Regions from separate parts of the Homo sapiens genome. Here region 1 is linked to region 2. The links come from fine-mapping of genetic effects on gene expression. Tissue or cell type: B cells. Region 2 holds a variant in brackets; the other region holds the start of a gene. All regions are shown on one strand. Distances are from middle to middle.

Evidence for each region. PIP is the estimated chance that this variant, and not a neighbour inherited with it, causes the effect.
Region 1: it holds the start of CCDC85A, and the variant in region 2 is fine-mapped to the expression of CCDC85A in B cells (CEDAR, PIP 0.95).

The regions. Positions count from the first base shown.
Region 1 is chr2:56,180,147-56,188,254 of GRCh38, reverse strand. It overlaps CCDC85A (coiled-coil domain containing 85A), which reads right to left and starts at 4,265. Exons shown (of 6, transcript NM_001080433.2): 1 at 3,355-4,265. The coding sequence starts at 3,630. It overlaps LOC100129434 (a long non-coding RNA gene), which reads left to right and starts at 2,485. Exons shown (of 3, transcript NR_125368.1): 1 at 2,485-2,557. RefSeq lists a silencer at 4,266-4,595.
Region 2 is chr2:56,362,833-56,370,940 of GRCh38, reverse strand. The region is part of intron 3 of CCDC85A (coiled-coil domain containing 85A); the gene reads right to left. Among named protein-coding and RNA genes, the nearest start is that of CCDC85A, 180 kb to the right of the region's middle. The variant G/T (reference allele first, on the strand shown) is at 3,142.

The sequences.
Region 1 (8,108 bases), 180 kb after region 2:
AACAGCTAAGCAGCCAGCTTGATAATAACCTTGTGATCCAGCTTCTTCAAATCTGCCTCACTAAGACTTGGGCTTTCTTTTGCAAAACACTAGGTGTCCTTTTAACATTGCCACCGGCCACCAGAAATTATCCAAGTGTCTAAGTGGACTTTTAAAAGGTTAAGTCCACTTCGTAGCACACCAACCAAAATTTCAATCTTATGCCTGAAGACTATCAAGTACTGTATCTACAGTTAAATAATTGTTTTAATTTGTTATTTTGCTTCACTGCAGAGCAGGGTGGTGGGCGGGTCGGTGGTTGGGTTAGGAACCAAGGAGGGAAATTAATGCAATGAAGAAAACAAATCTACAGAGATTCATCCCGAATCAGCCCCCAACTGGGATACTGGGTCAGAGCAGCCTGAAGTGTTGGTATATGCTCAGCAGTCCAAAGACATGGTTCTCAGGAATCCAGTTCCTTACAACATAACCCTAACTAGAATCTCCCTCATCCACCCCTTCCAGGACCACACATTCTAAGCAAAGAATGTCAACTAGCCAAAAGAAAAGGAAAGCAGGCCGATTTTGAACACTTTATGTCTGTGTGACCTTGAGAAAACTATCTAACTTCACTGGGGTTTCTTCATCTATGGTATATTTCATCCTCATAAAACCTCATGTGGAATTAAAATCCCCATGAGCAGATGAGAAAACCGAGAGACAGAGAGTTTAACAATTGGCCAAAGCTGCCCAAATTATCAGAATCCAAATTCTTTATCTTTCCACTTCTCAGGGCCCCTGCACTGCCCTGCCTCCCAAATATCTAAACACAAACAAGTCAATCAGTGCTAGGACCCGGCCACAGGCCCCTGAAAAGTAAAGAACTGATGCTGCCATCTCCTGTGTCCACAGCTACAATAACACCTGGTAGCCTTACAAATATTTAGATGCAATTTCAAAGTCAGCTCATAGAAAGAGGCATAAAAAAGAAAATGTATTATGGTCTTAATTCCCCTACATTTATAGTTCTCAACTGAGAATGCCAAGCCCTCAGACGCTCCCCCACGCCCTTAACAAAAAAAAATACTTCTTTTCTTCCAGTTAAGCCAAAATAAATATATGTACCCATCATTTATTCAATCAACCACATTTATGGATTACTATGGTGTCCAAGGAAGCTCTGAGCCAAAATAAAAAAGAGAAGGGAGAAGGCTGGCCTCTCCAAAGAGTAAAACCACAGCACACCCAGGGTGGGCCAGAAGCCTGGGAGTCCGCTCCTTGCAGCAGCCCAGGGATGACATGAGAAGAGTAGAAGCTGCATCAGAAAGCAACCTGCCCCCATCATTTCTGAACTTGATAAGGAAGTAGACTGGCAAGTCTTTTAATGCCAGGTCATGAATCTAGATCACAAGGAGACTTTCTTACTTGGGTGTACGGGCCTTTAGCTGACCTAATAGCTACTTCTCTACATGAAGCTACTGGAATGAAGCCCAGGCACTCTACCAACCCACTCTACCATTCCCCTCCCCTACCCACACACAGACATCACACACAGTCAATCCACATAACCTAAAGGAACTTTCAAGTGTTTCTGAGCTATTATTTTGATGCTCCATACTATTAAAACATTTAATAATAACTCTTCCAACTCTTCTAAATCACACTATTGTTCAGACCATGGAAGAAACTCAAATTAGAGGATGACAAACTAATGCCCCCTTGTCCAGCTCTGCCTAAGAAACCAAAATCTTGGGGACACACAGCCATAGATTTGTAAGTCCTTTCCTGATGACAGTAACTACCATTTTATAGTCAAGTATTAAACCTTCCCCTACATAATCATAACTTATTGCCATAACACCCTCAGAAAGTTATTATCATTGCATTGTATTGGTGAATAAAAGGAGGATCTGAGAAAGTAATTACCCAAGCTCACCCTCCTGGCAAATGAGGTTTCTAGAATTCAAACCCACCTCTGAGATCATCTTCCTACTACACTAGCCTGCCTCTATTCCCCAAAGAGACTGGCACTTAATAAACACTCTGTTAGTAATGAATTCAACCACAGGAGAGAGTAAGCCTTGGCATTTTTCTGACTGGAGGAATCTTCCTACCTGCACCCACTCTAGGGACTATATGACAATGACTTTCGGCCTCGGGAGACGGCCATCTCCACCTGAACTGGGCCCAGCACATAGGTGAGCCTTGAGCATTCCACTCTTCCCACTCTTTCTTGCCCCAGAATCCCAGAGCTGGAGCACTGAGGCAATTCCGGAACAGCATCTACTGTCTGATATGTGGGGATAGGAGTGGAAAGGGGAAAAGAACAGCTTGTGCCTTCGGGAATTTGCTCCCTGAAGTCCCTGCAGTGATTTCGTTTGTGTCTGGCTTCCTACAAACAAAGCAGAACAATGAGAGGAAGGAATACCAGGAGGCACCAGCGCTAGCTGGAAGGAGAGGAAGTTTGTGGTGCTCGCCAGCAGGGCGGTTCCCGGCCACTAGTGTACTGCAGCTGGGCAGGCACACTCCTCGCAGACCCGGCGCTCTCCAAGGAGAAAAGAAAGTTAGTGGGCTTGGGGTACGTTTCCCTTCTTTTCCTAGAAGAGGGTGGCAGGGGGGCTGGCTCAGAAAGAAACCATCACTGACCAACACTTGGGGTACTCTGTCAAAATGCTGCTCCTTCCATACTGAGTCTCTTTGCTCCTCCTCTTTCCCCCAGTCAACCTGGGGTTAAGTGGGAAGGGGAGTAAGGCAACTCCAGGGGATGCCTTCCAAACTCCGGGAGAGGGAAAGCACAGGAATTGGGAGAAGACGTGAAGGCAGAGCTTGAACTCCTATGTACCCGGTGACACAAGACTGCTCTGAGGGTGGCGCCCGCTGCTTCTCCCGGGCGCCCCGCCAGCCGCTCTCCCTGGCAGTGGCGCCCTTTCCTCGCCCTCTGCCCGCCCAAGAGCTGCTGGCCCAGAGCAGCCGCATTCCCGACCCTCCAAGGCGAAGATCCCCTGGATTCACCCCCTCACTGGCCTTTCCGCCTAACTGACTGAAACCCGGCTCCCCAGGCACAGATTTTCCAGCCTCCCTAAGAAATGAAAGGTTCGCGTGCCCTTCACCTCCCTCCCTGCTTTCCAGCGTCCTCAGCGCCTCCCCGAACAGCCAGACAGTGGAGCGCCCCGTGTTGGGGAGAGGAGGGGAGCAGACGCCTCCGAAGTTTGGAAAAGTTACACAGGGGCTGGGGACTGGGGGTAGGGGGTGCCGACCGGGAGAAGGGGAGGGTCACCTGTTGAGGGAGGGAGGGAAAGTTTGCCTGGCCCCGCCTCCTCCTCGGGGCACCCCGCTCCCAGCCGCGCCGCGCCTCCCCACCTGGCCCGCGCTCACCTTGAGGCCGCGGATCTCGCCGAGGTGCAGCTGCAGGCGGCGGTTCACCTCGCGGATGAGGTTGCTGTGGTCCAGCATCGCGCTCACCTTCTCCGCCTCGGCGCGCCGCAGGCTGCGGATCAGCTCCTCCTTGCTCCACTGCAGCAGCTCCTCGTCCGACACTTTGGACAGGTCCTCCACCGGCGCGGGCGGGGCCGCGGACGAGCCGGCCGGGGCTGGGGAACAACTTTCCGCCGCCGCCGCAGCCGCCGCCGCGCCTCCGGCCGCCTTCGACATGGTATCCGCGGGGTGGCAGGTGCAAGTGGGTGGAAGAGGCGAGGCGACTCCCGAAGGCGCGGGCGCGGCGAGGCCGCCTCCGCCCACACCCCTGTGCGCTCCGGCGAGTCAGCGGCACCGCCCAGGGGCCGCTGGGTTGGGGCGGCGGGGGTCGCGCTGGGTGGCCATCCTACCTCGCCATCCCCGCGCGCGCGCCCGCGCTCCCCCAGGGCCCGGCAGCCAGCCGCTTGCTGCTGCCGAGGCCCGTCCCAACTCCGCGCAAGTCCATGGTGAGGGGCACTGGGGAGCCCGGGGCTGCCGCGGGAAATCCTCGGGGACAGCGGGGGAGCTGCACCGCCGTTCCCCTGCCCTCTCCTCCGCCCTAAGCCGAGACTGTCGCCCCCCGCACTCTCTGCCCTGCACACAGGCGTGCACGCACACGCACTTTCCTCCCCCTTGCCCAGCTGCAGCCCCCGGCTTCTCCCCTCTCCTAGCTTGGAGGGCGCGCCGGGCACCGCGGCGCCTCCCCGGCTGCTCTAGCGACGCCGCCGCGGCTGCCCGAAGGCTGCTGCGCTCCTCCTGCCGCCTTCGCTGCGCCCGCGGCCGCTCCTAGGCTGCTCCGGAAAGCCTTCGATTTGCAGAGCGGAGTCGAGAAGGGGTGGAGGGTGGGGGACCGGCTGGAGGAGGAGCCTGGAGCTGGGGCCACCCGTAACCCGCAGCAGCTCCCGCATGGGCTGGACGCAGCTGCCACTCGACCGCTGCCCGGGCCCTCGAGGTGCGCTCCCGGCTGTCCTGCCCGGGAGGGCTGGGGGCGCGGCTCTTTCTGCGCCCGGGCGGGTGGGGCTGGAATGGGGAGAAGGTGAGGAGCTGTGGCCGCCCGGTCTTTGGGAGGCTCGCGCGCGCCACCGTGTGGCGGAAGAAGCTCCCTCCTCTGCCCTCTGCACACCGGCCTTGTCACCAGGCAGGGGAAACAGCTGCTGACCCAAATGCGAGGTGCTTCGTATTTGGAGGGATCGGGGATCAGGAAAGATGGGGTAGCAGGACCTGAGGGATAACCAGTTATTTGCACTTTGGAGAATGGGAGGAGAGGCAAATGGCAAAAACGGGGGTTGGGGAAAGGGGCAGCTTAAGAAAATCCAAATGGTCTGAAAAGGGCGAAAAGAGGCGTCAGGGCACTGCTCTTATGGGGCTACCCATCCCCACCCCCCACTCTCGCCCCACCCCTAGGCCTTTGTGTTTTCTAAAAATCCACTACTCTATGAAGAAGCTTCGGGAGAAGGTACTGGATCTTTTAAATTTTTATTTGAAAAATATCAAAGCCTTTAGGCGAAAATAAAATACCTTCATCTCCTGCTTCCTGAAACCTGGATTTTAAGGTCAGCACAGTCACCTCCCCTCGGAGCAAAGCAAGCCCCCTCAGGCAAGCTGAAATGCCAGCCAAGGAGATTTCCATTTTCTTCTATGCCGCAGGCTGCCAGGCGTTTACTGGGTCGGCTTTTTTATGATGGTTATTTCTGGAAGGAGGAAGTCTGAGTCCCTGGCTTCTATCTTTGGGCTATCCTCTTGTAAAGTTGGGTGGAATCGTCTCTGGGCTGAAAACATGCTTTTGCCTAAAGAGGTGGATGCCCTTGACCACCGCATGTTATTTCCAGTGGGGTACAGGGCCGGAAAATGGCAAGGATCTACCCCCACCGGGTTTCAGTTAACCCGGGTGCAGAGGGAATAATCTCTATCTGGTAGGATGATAATCAAAATCAGTCCCTTCACCCGCCGGTCAGTGCGTGTCCCCTATTGGGGACACTGAGACCTGGCTCCCGGGAGAGGCAAGGAAATGTGGTACTGCTTACGGTGACCAAATGGCCTTAACATTCCCCTCAGCTTAACTAAACTTTAGACAGGTTTCTTCCTAACTGTAGGCCCCAGACCTTCCTTTTCTCAGAGCATTTACTTTAGCCAACTTCCATTGGTGAATGTTTCCTCTGACCCTTTGACATGTAAATCTCTCCGCCTCTTGCTGGGTTTTACAGCCTGGGGATCTTTCTCAGGGATCTGTGAGGCATCCCTTTGAAATGTAATCATCAAGGAAAAAAGGGTCCCTATCTCCTAGTGTTTGTGGAGAGGAGGAGCCTAACTTTAATAAGTTCCAATTAGGAAACACAAATGGCCTCATTACACTGACCAACTTCCCATCCTAATCTCCTCCACTAGTCTTCTACTAGTTCCCCTCTCCCTCCCTCTCTCTCTTCCCTATTGCAATAGCCTTGAATAATTCCCCCTTGTCTGTTTAACTATATCGGATGCAATTTTTCTTTGACACCTCCAAGCCGCTCTCACGCCCACAGAAGGCTCTGCTCAACACAGTTCCTAAGACCAGTTTTGTCACAGAAAGGGAAAGTGAAGGTCAGAAAAAGATAAGTCCTATCTCTGTTACTTGTTAGTTCTTGTCCTTGAACAAACCATCCGACCTTACTGGCCCTCGGGCAGCTAATGATATGGTATACAAGAAGCGCTTGATCGAGCCACCCTACAGAAATGCAACCTTACTATTACTGATATTACATATTACATTGGGCAGCCTCTTGTCTAGAAATAGGAACCAGGACTTCTGTTTATTCCTCCATCACGGGTTCTTCAAGAGTCGTATTCTAAAATGAAACAGCCAGCCCCCTTCTCTGCTAACTCCCTCTGATCAGTTAACACCAAATAGATATGAGAAATCAGAGAGATGGCTGAGAGGAAAAATTAGACTTGTGTTGGGAAGACAAGGAAGAAGGAAAGCCAAAAAAAAAAAAAAAGTCTCCACAAATTATATACACTAGCAGTGGATTACAGTTGAGCTAGATCACCTTAAGGTTTTCATGTTTCTAATTTTGGTCATTGATTCAGAATAATAATTATCTGCATGAATGAATAATGTTGCTTCATGTTGCTAAGGTCATGTATGGTGTCAGGAGCTTCATTTGACTGCTAAAAACAGAAACTCAAAAAACAGTCACTTTAAAAAAGTCATTTATTTTTTCTCACCTACCTGGTATTCTAAAGAGAGGCAGCTGAGGGCTGGTATGGTATCTTCATGAGGTCGTCAAAATCTTAGGCTCCTTCTCTCAGCTCAGTCCCCTTTGGGATGATTGCCTCGTGTCCATAACATGGTTGGTGGAACTCTAGCCATCCAGCTACGTGTAAGGCAGGAAGAAGGTAATAACAACTGCAAAGGGGCACATGCCCCTTTAAAAACTTTTCCTGGTGGCCGGGGGCGGTGGCTCATAACTGTAATCCCAGCACTTTGGGCGTCCGATGCAGGTGGATCATTTGAGGTCAGGAATTCAAGACCAGCCTGGCCAATATGGTGAAACCCCATCTTTACTAAAAATACAAAAATTAGCTGGGCATGGTGGTGCGTGCCTATAATCCCAGCTATCGGGAGGCTGAGGCAGGAGAATCGCTTGAGCCTGGGACGCGGAGGTTGTGGTGAGCCAGGATCGTGCCACTGCACTCCACTCTGGTCGAAAGAGTGAGACCCTGTCTCAAAAAAAAAAAAAAAAATCCTGGTAATTGACCCAGTGAATTTTGTTTATGTTCTAATAGGCAGAGCTTACCATATAATCACCTCCCAGCTGCAAGGGAAGCTAGGACAGTGTTTTAAGTTGGGTATATTAAATGGAGATTTCTGAAAACCAGCCATAAATGACCCTACGTCTTTAGTCCTGATGGTTTTATATCATATAATTTTCTTCAGTCAACTCTATTTCCCCCCAGCTCACTGTTACTCAGCCTAGGTTCTCACTAAGTCTCACCTGGCCCTTCTCACTGGTCCCTCTGACTACTGCATCACCTCTCTCGAATCTGCTTTCCACACAACTTCCCAAGTGAATCATCTCAAAAAGTCAAGTCTAGCTACTTTACCCCTGAGACAGATTGAATTATTGCTGATAATTTTTCACAACCTCCCTACAAAATTAATTAACATCGGCCAGGTGTGGTGGCTCACGCCTGTAATCCCAGCTCTTTGGGAGGCCAAGGCGGGTGGATCACGAGATCAGGAGATCTAGACCACCCTGGATAACACGGTGAAACCCCGTCTCTACTAAAAATACAAAATATTAGCCGGGCGTGGTGTCGGGTACCTGTAGTCCCAGCTACTCGGGAGGCTGAGGTGGGAGAATGGCGTGAACCCAGGAGGCGGAGCTTGCAGTGAGCCAAGATAGCACCACTGCACTCCAGCCTGACGGCATAGCGAGACTCTGTCTCAAAAAAAAAAAAAAAAAAAAATTAACATCACCTTCCACCATGTGATGTTGTAGCACCTCCCCTACAGGGGGCAGTTTTTCTCCCCTCCCTACTGGTATTGAAAATCATATTGCAAGCATATGACTTGCTGTACTAACGCATGTGTGTGCACCTGACAGTGTACCCCTTCTCTGAAGAGGTCTCAAAAGGCGTCTGTCTGCCCACTCACCCGTCTGTTCTTTCCACGCTTCACCAGGAGAAGAGCTAACCTT
Region 2 (8,108 bases):
AATTTTATAATTATTTTTACAAATAAGGAGATCTAGTATCTGAATTTGATTATTTCCATAACATGCACCTCTCAGATCTTATCCTTTTTGGATTTAACAACTGAGTAAAACATATAGGCATTCTACTTTCATTCTTTCTTAATGTGTAGCAAGGCTAAATCCCAATTCCTCTCCATTGTAACAAAGCTTATCATCATACCCATGAAATCTAAGGTAGGATCTATGCCAACTTAGAAGCCAGCTGGCATGAGCGCCATTTAGCTACTATGTAGAGAACTCACAATAATTTCCAACTTTCAGAAAGTAGATACTACATAAAACAATAGCTATACTTTAAGTATTATAAAATGTTCCTTTAAAATATATTAAATATGTATTTTATAGTATTATTAATCTCATAAGGGGGAACAATAAACAGGGGCCAGATCTTTGTGGAAGAATAAACTGATGATATAACCATTTTAAAGGAAAAGGCACTCTTTTAGAACCAGGATTAATTAATTTTCTCCCCATGTCAGCATATATATTTTTTTAATCTAGGTATATAGAAAAGTGTGTTCTGGGCCAGCCATCATCATTAACTTTCAAATAAACTACATCAAAATGGTATTTATACACTAATGAAGGCTTAGTGTTTCGCAGGGCCTACAATCACCAATTACAGTGTTTGCTGAAGACAGTTTCATAAAACGTAAGAAGCCTTCAGTAATTCAGTCGTTAAACTTGTTTCTGGCAACTTGGGGGCTCAAAATGGTGGAACTCAGATTCTGGTCACTAATTGGGAGAACAATTCCAAACAGTCTTAAGATCGTCACTTCCTATTTTCTGAGGAATTCTGTTTCACTTAGTTTTGTTTTCTGTAGTTTTCTAAAATTCCAAGTTTGTGAAAAAGAATCCCTGAATGACCCTAACACTCCCATTGTGTGAGAAGTAAATTATAGATTACTTACTCTGTGGTAAGTACTCACAGAAATCATAAAAGAATATGAAGAAGTATGAATCACTGAGTCTCTTTAAGTTTCGCTATAACTGTACTAGTCAATAGTTTTTATTCCTTGAAAACTCTGGAAACTTCTATAGAGGTAATAGTGTAGGGTTTTTCAGAAAACGAAGTATTTCAAAAATTTGTGAGGAGGAAAGAAGAGTGAAAATCAAGTACTGAAAAGAAGAAAAAGGGGGAAATGGGAAATCCGAACTGTACTTCTCACTCACCAGGCATCTCAGCGAACTTCAGACACACATAAAGGTTCCTCTTGAATGATGAACAGAAAAAGTCCCCAAGAACTATTTGTTGGAAACCTCAGTAATAAAGTATGAAGTGACCTATGTTTTAAGCTAAGAAGAATAAGTCAGCCTGACTTGAAGACTTTTACCTTGCTGACTTTGAAAGGCATAAAGATGGGCAAATGAATTCACATATGGACATTTGCATGGGTTTAGCATGAGTCATAGCCTTTAGTCCTCAGGACTTTCGGGGTCAGATTCTGGTTAGTTCTTCAAACTTCAACAGGGTATAAAATTCTCTGTACTTAAACATGAAATCAACATGAAGTTTTGAACAACTACATCTGCAACATTTTCTCTTCAAACTACGACCATTCTAATAATAAATAGTTCTCATCTATTTATTTAAAGACGTACAACATTCTCTAAGACATTATAGTTTATCTTTCCCTTATTGCTCACAATGAGCTATATATGTAAATGAAGGGAATAAAAACCAATTTTGCAAAAAAATAGACCATTTAACTTTTTTACACTGTCGTGTTTCTTTTCTCAAATTTGCGTGAATTAAGTGTTACTGTTCCTCATAGAAATAATGAAAAACACTAAGAAATGTCCAATATTATATGTTATCTAAAATACATGAATCACAAAACGATGATCACTCAGAATTTGATGTGTGATCTCTGCAGTAGGGAAAATTACCTAAAAAATAAAGCTCCTAGAAAAATCCTTTATAATGTTTTAATTAGTAATGAAGTCAAGGAAATTTTTTAATTTAATGAAAATTCTTCCTAAAAAAAGTTTTGTTTGCACGCCAGAAAAATGGAAAACAAATATACTGAGTTTCTTATTGAATATATACATATACATATATGTACATATGTATGTGTATATATAAAAATATATATGTACTATATAAATATTTCCAATTGACTAAAACTCACATTCAATAGAGTAATACTGTAGTGTTACATAAAATAGTTTCTCACTTTGATATAAATCAGATGTAATGCACTTATAACAAATTTGAGACCCCAGCCCTCTCATTCACTATAGAAGGCCAACTACGGAAGCCTGAAGATTGATCAGCTAAAGTGGTTTCCTGTTACTTAAAGATGCTTAATTTTTTATAATTCCTGAACTTGGTTAAACTATCATATAATATTTAATACCTCATCAGAGTGTATGCCTAGTTTAAGGGGGAGGATAAATTCAGTTTTCCCTTATTACAGGGCAAGGCAGATACTTTGCTTAATCTCATCAGGGAAATAATATTTTGTTCAGTTTGGCCAATCTTCATTCTGACATATTGTAAAACTGTCCTAGCAAATAAATAAAAGCTCTGATTAGAAGAGATTTTAAAGGTCACCTTGGCAAACCCTCTCCAAGAGATTCTTGTGCATAGGCTTAGAAATGCTAAGACCCTCTTGCCTTACTCTAATGTTAATATTTAGTCGGTTATATCCAAAGAAAAGTGCATTTTTCATTTAAATTAACTAAAGAATCTATTCAATGCTGATGTAAAATAATAAGTAATTTCCTGGATGTATAGTCATTCATTTATTCACTTAACAAACATTAATTTAGTAACTATCAGACGTGATATTGCATGCAATGCCATATAGATACCTATTCCAACGAATTTTTGTTGAAAGAGAAACACAGTGAGTTCAAATCACAGACTCCAGGGTCGCAGTGCCGGAGTTTAAATTCTTGATCTGACACTTATGAGCTGCATGACTTTGGACAAGCTATATGGCCTTTCTGTGCCTTAGTTTCCTCATCTATACAGTGTAAATAATAATGGTAAAATGGTACGGTCACTCTATGGGCTTGGAAACTTACATGGAAAGAGCTTTTAAAACAGTGTCTGGCCCACATAAGTGCTCTATAAGCATTTGCTGTCCTTATCAT[G/T]AATGTTTTTGCTTTGCTTGTCAACATATTTTATAACTTGTCAATTTATGTCCGAATGTTTATTATTGAGAGTGTCAGTTCTCATTGGGGGCGGGGGTGATTTGGCCCCCAAGAGAAAACATTTGGCAAAAATGCCTGCAGACATTTTTACTTGTCAAAACTATGCAGTTTCTACTGGCATTTAGTGGGTAGAGGCCAAGGATGTTGCCAAATATCTTAAAATGCACTGGACAGACCCCTCACAAAGAAAGGATTATCTAGCCCAAAATGTCGCTATAGCTGAAGTTGAGAAACCCTGATTTAGAGAAAGAGAACTATGTTGGGAAACTACAAAGCAAAATTTCTGGTGACAGCTCTATAGCAGATTTTGCATATGAGGACATGTTGCCCACAGGATTTGGAGCTTGAAAGGATTTAGAAGGAAACTCCTTAAGCTTCAGCCCTCAAATGGTCTAAGTATAAAGGCAGCCACATTTCCACCCCCAAATAAGAAATTACTCCAATAAAAGAAACAGAATTGAAAATACCCATATCATCCTACTGTAACAACACTAGCAGAAAGAGAATACGCTGTGGGCAGGCACAGGGCAGTGGTCCAAAGGAAAGAGTTCTTGAGATAGAGACATATAGTATGCTACAGTACCTAGAAAATCGTGACACCAGTCCCACATAGAGAATACAATTGGCAGAAGGGGCTCTGTGGAAATTATGGAAGATCATAAAGCTTACTTAACAATTTGCTGGGCAAAGATTCTGCACTTAACTTGAAGCAGTCACATTAGGAAAGAATAAAATTGCCAGCAAATAGAAGTGGGGGCCCTGACACATGAAACACATCTCAGTGCTAATGAAAGCATTATAAGATAATGGCAAAAGATTAAATAGATAAAAAGATAAAAGAGAGATTAAATCATAAAAGATGAAAGAAATAAGAAGGAGAAATCTGGACCAGGAGGCGACTACTCTCTGCGTCACATGTGGTGAAGGATTGTAGCCTATGTACAGACTCCTCGGCAGGCAGAGGACTTCTTGAGGGCCTGTTTTTGACATAACAGCTCTCAATCACTAAGCTCCTACCACGTTAGCACTACCCTAAGTGCTGTCCATTAAAAGATTAATAAAACTGGCTAATGTGAGTTCCTAAAATGCTGGGTGAATATCCAAAATATAGAAATAACTCAAACATCTCAATAGCAAGGAAACAACCCAATTGAAAAATGAGCAAAGGACCTGAATAGACATTTCTTAAAAAGAAGACATACAAATAGCAAAGGATTTATGCAAAAATGCTGAACAGTTCTAATCAAGAGAAAAATACAAATTAAAACCACAATGAGATCACCTCATGCCTTTTAAAATGACTATTATCAAAAAGACAAAAGATGTGTTGGCAAGAATATGGAGAGATGGGAACCCTTGCACACTGCTGGTGGGAATGCAAATAAGTATAGCTATTATGGAAAACAGTATGAAGTTCCTTCAAAAAATTACAAGTAGGACTACATATGATTCAGCAATCCCACTACTGGGTATACATTAAAATTAAACAAAATCAGTATGTCAAAGAGATATCTGCACTCCCATGTTAACTGCAGCATTAGTCATAATAGCCAAGATATGGAAACAACCTAAGTGTCCATGAATGGATGAATAAAGAAAATGTGCTATCTATATATACAACAGAATACTATTCAGCCTTAAAAACGAAGGAAATCCTGTCACTTGTCACAACGTGGATGAACCTGGAGGACATTACACTAAATGAAATAAGTCAGGCACAGAAAGATAAATACTGCATGATCGTACTCATATATGAAATCTTAAAAAAAAAGTTTATTTCTACTTAGAGAGGAGAAAGGTGGTTACCAGGAGTTGAGGGGATTGGGAAGGAGAAGGAAATGTCTGTCAAAGGATACAAAATTTCAGTTAGACAGGAGGAATAATTTCAAGTGATCTACTGTACAGCATGGTGACTATAGTCAATAATTTATTGCATTCTTGAAAAATACTAAGAAAGTGGATGTAAAGTGTTCTCACCCAAAAATGATAACTATGCGAACTGATGTATATGTTAATTAGCTGTATTAAGTCATTCCACGATGTCTAATACTTTAAAACATCATGTTGTACACAGTAAAGATGTAATTTTATCTATAAATGTAAAAAAAGTTTTTTTAAAGATACTAACTGTGGGCCTGGTAATGTTTTCAGTAATTTATACCCCAGAGTGATTTTTCCTTCTTTGGGTCCCAGAAGTCTCCTTCTAGTCTATGCACTCATTCTTTGGCTCCTGGGTTACAGAGAGATCCAGATGATCCTAGGGAGGGTCAGATTGGTTGGAATAGCTCAGCAGCCTTCGAAGGAACTGGATTAGAAGCATGTTAATATGAATAACTGATACAGATGAACTGCTACACACCAGATTAACATCAGCTCTGTGCTCATTTGACCTTCTCCACTCCAGGCACATAACTGTGGCTGCAACCATTACATAAAATGTGTATCTATCCTAATAAACAAATGAAAGTAATATTAATTCACACACCCCTCATTTATTATGCCAAATAATGGCTGAGATTGATGTCTGTGGAGTCACAGTGGACGTAGTAAGCAGCTTCAATTCAGAGAACCAAAAATCTTAGGCTGCTGACATGTTCAGGAAAATAAAATTAGTTCTATCTTCCTGTAGTAGAAGGATGTGAGCACAGGATATGAGGCCCAGAGTAGCAAAAGCTGAGTCCAACATGACATGCAGGAGTTGCATGGGAAATCTCCCATGCCGTAAGAAGGATTTGAAATTTATTCTATGTGGAGCCACAGATGTAACAGAAACTGATTGGTGGTGGACAGATTGATCTGGTAATAGTGTGGAGAATGATTTGGGTGAGGCCAGACTACCTGGGATGAAGTTCCAATTAGGAGATCAACAAAGAATTTGAAGGGAAAAAAAGTATTACTTATTGCCTACACTGGAAAATAGCAGAAGAAATTAAAAGGACAATATTGATGGATTAGAGGGCAAGACCCTATGAACTTTAATGTCTATTTGAATGTAGGCAGTGAGGTTGAAGGAGTTATCCAGGATGACTATCAACTTTCTGGTTAGGTACTCGCTAAATGGTCATGCTATTAACCAGCATAGAAAATACCGGGGGAAGTAATAGATCTAACTCTTTCATCAGATTTTTAAAATCAAGATCAAAGAAGTGATTAATAATGCAAAGCCCTCAAGCATTCTTTGTCACGAATACCCTCCAAAAGGTTTTCTCCTGACATGTGAAATAAGAGAGTTTGCAAAACATTTAAATTTAAAATGATATTAACTTCATGCAGTGCTCACTGTATCACTGATGAAAATATCTCTGCAAACAATAAAATGTTATTGGAAGGAAAAGAAAGTAATTTTGAAATACCTGTTCCTCCAGGTGAAACTTACAGATACAGAAATATAGTTCCCAGAAAAAATAAAACGAAATAAAAGTAATAATTACAGAAGGTTAGCAGGATGCCTTTTTACAAAAATTACAAAGGGCAAACCCCAGGAAGAAAAGAATTAATATCTTTTGAAAGGGCTAAGACAGAAAACACCCAGTGTCTCTGTAGCCAGAGTGACGGCAGATAAAGAATAACATTGAAGGCCTGGTTGAAAAAAAGAAAAAGAGGCTGTTAAACAATACCTAGGAAACATAGGCAACTACTTCTAGGCAATGAGTCTATATGCTTAATACTTGACTTTTATTAACTATAGAACTCCCAGTGAGAAACACTGAAATTCCTACAGAAAAAGACTGATACTTCTAAATTGCTTTTCAATCAGGCTGGTATTAAATAGTAAAAGGTTATGGCATTGTTGCTGAGAACATATCTGAATACTTTCAGGTTTTGGGCTTATTTTTTAAAAGGGAGAAAAGGAAAGCACAAGTAGGACACGGAGCGTAAGGGCATGGAGCTGAATTGCCAGTATGGATGCAATGGCAAAGAAGTAATGCTAATTAACATTGCATCTGACTTGCAGACCAGAGCCGATTAATAATTGTGTTAAACACCTCAGCATGCTATCAGGGCCCAGGGGAACACATGCACAGAACTAGAGCCCCAGGAACTAAACAGTGACTTAAAATAAATATTTGCTGAATTGACTAAGAAATATTCCACTGTGAGGTGGTGTTTGCTGCCCTAGCTTTGGCAAAAAGAAGGGTCTTAGGTTCTTTGATGAATCTTCTAGTATATGAAGCTCCCATGCAAAATGGGAAAGTCAAGACAAGAGAGAGGTCAATAGAGAAGCAAGAAGAGTCAGCTTCTTGTATGTATCCTTACAGCTACCTATCTAGGATACATACAATAATACAAACAAACACAGCTACCAGTTAGGCTGTAGGTCTACCCATGCCACCTGCTGAAAGATCTATCATGGAGCGTTAGCAATGATCTTATGCTTAAATGTTTACAGAAACGAGAGTAGCCAAAATGAATCCAGAATCCAGGCAGTGTAGCCTTTGCATAATTGGTAGTAGTAATATCTCTGGCAGGGAAAAATGAAATCCACCATCAGCGAGACCATCATCAAAGCACAAAAGGAAGCATCATGGAAGCATGAGCTCTTATTGTCACAAACAGCTCTTACTGGAAAGGAAGAAAACAAAGAGATTTTAAAAATATGTTTATCTGTGCCCTACCTTCTTATAAAAAAAATACGATGGAAAACAAGATTTTTTTATTCAAACTATATATACACTCATTTAACTGAATCATATTCAAAAGGATAAGTCTAGGGCACAGAGAGTTAAAACAAAATATAAAACATCTTTGCAAAGTCAGTCCATTGAAGTAAGTCCCAAAATCATCCATACCTCTGGGAGACTAAAAAAGCTAAATGGGGCCGGGAGCAATGGCTCACACCTGTAATCCCAGCACTTTGGGAGGTCAAGGGGACAGATCACCTGAGGTCAGGAGTTTGAGACCAGCCT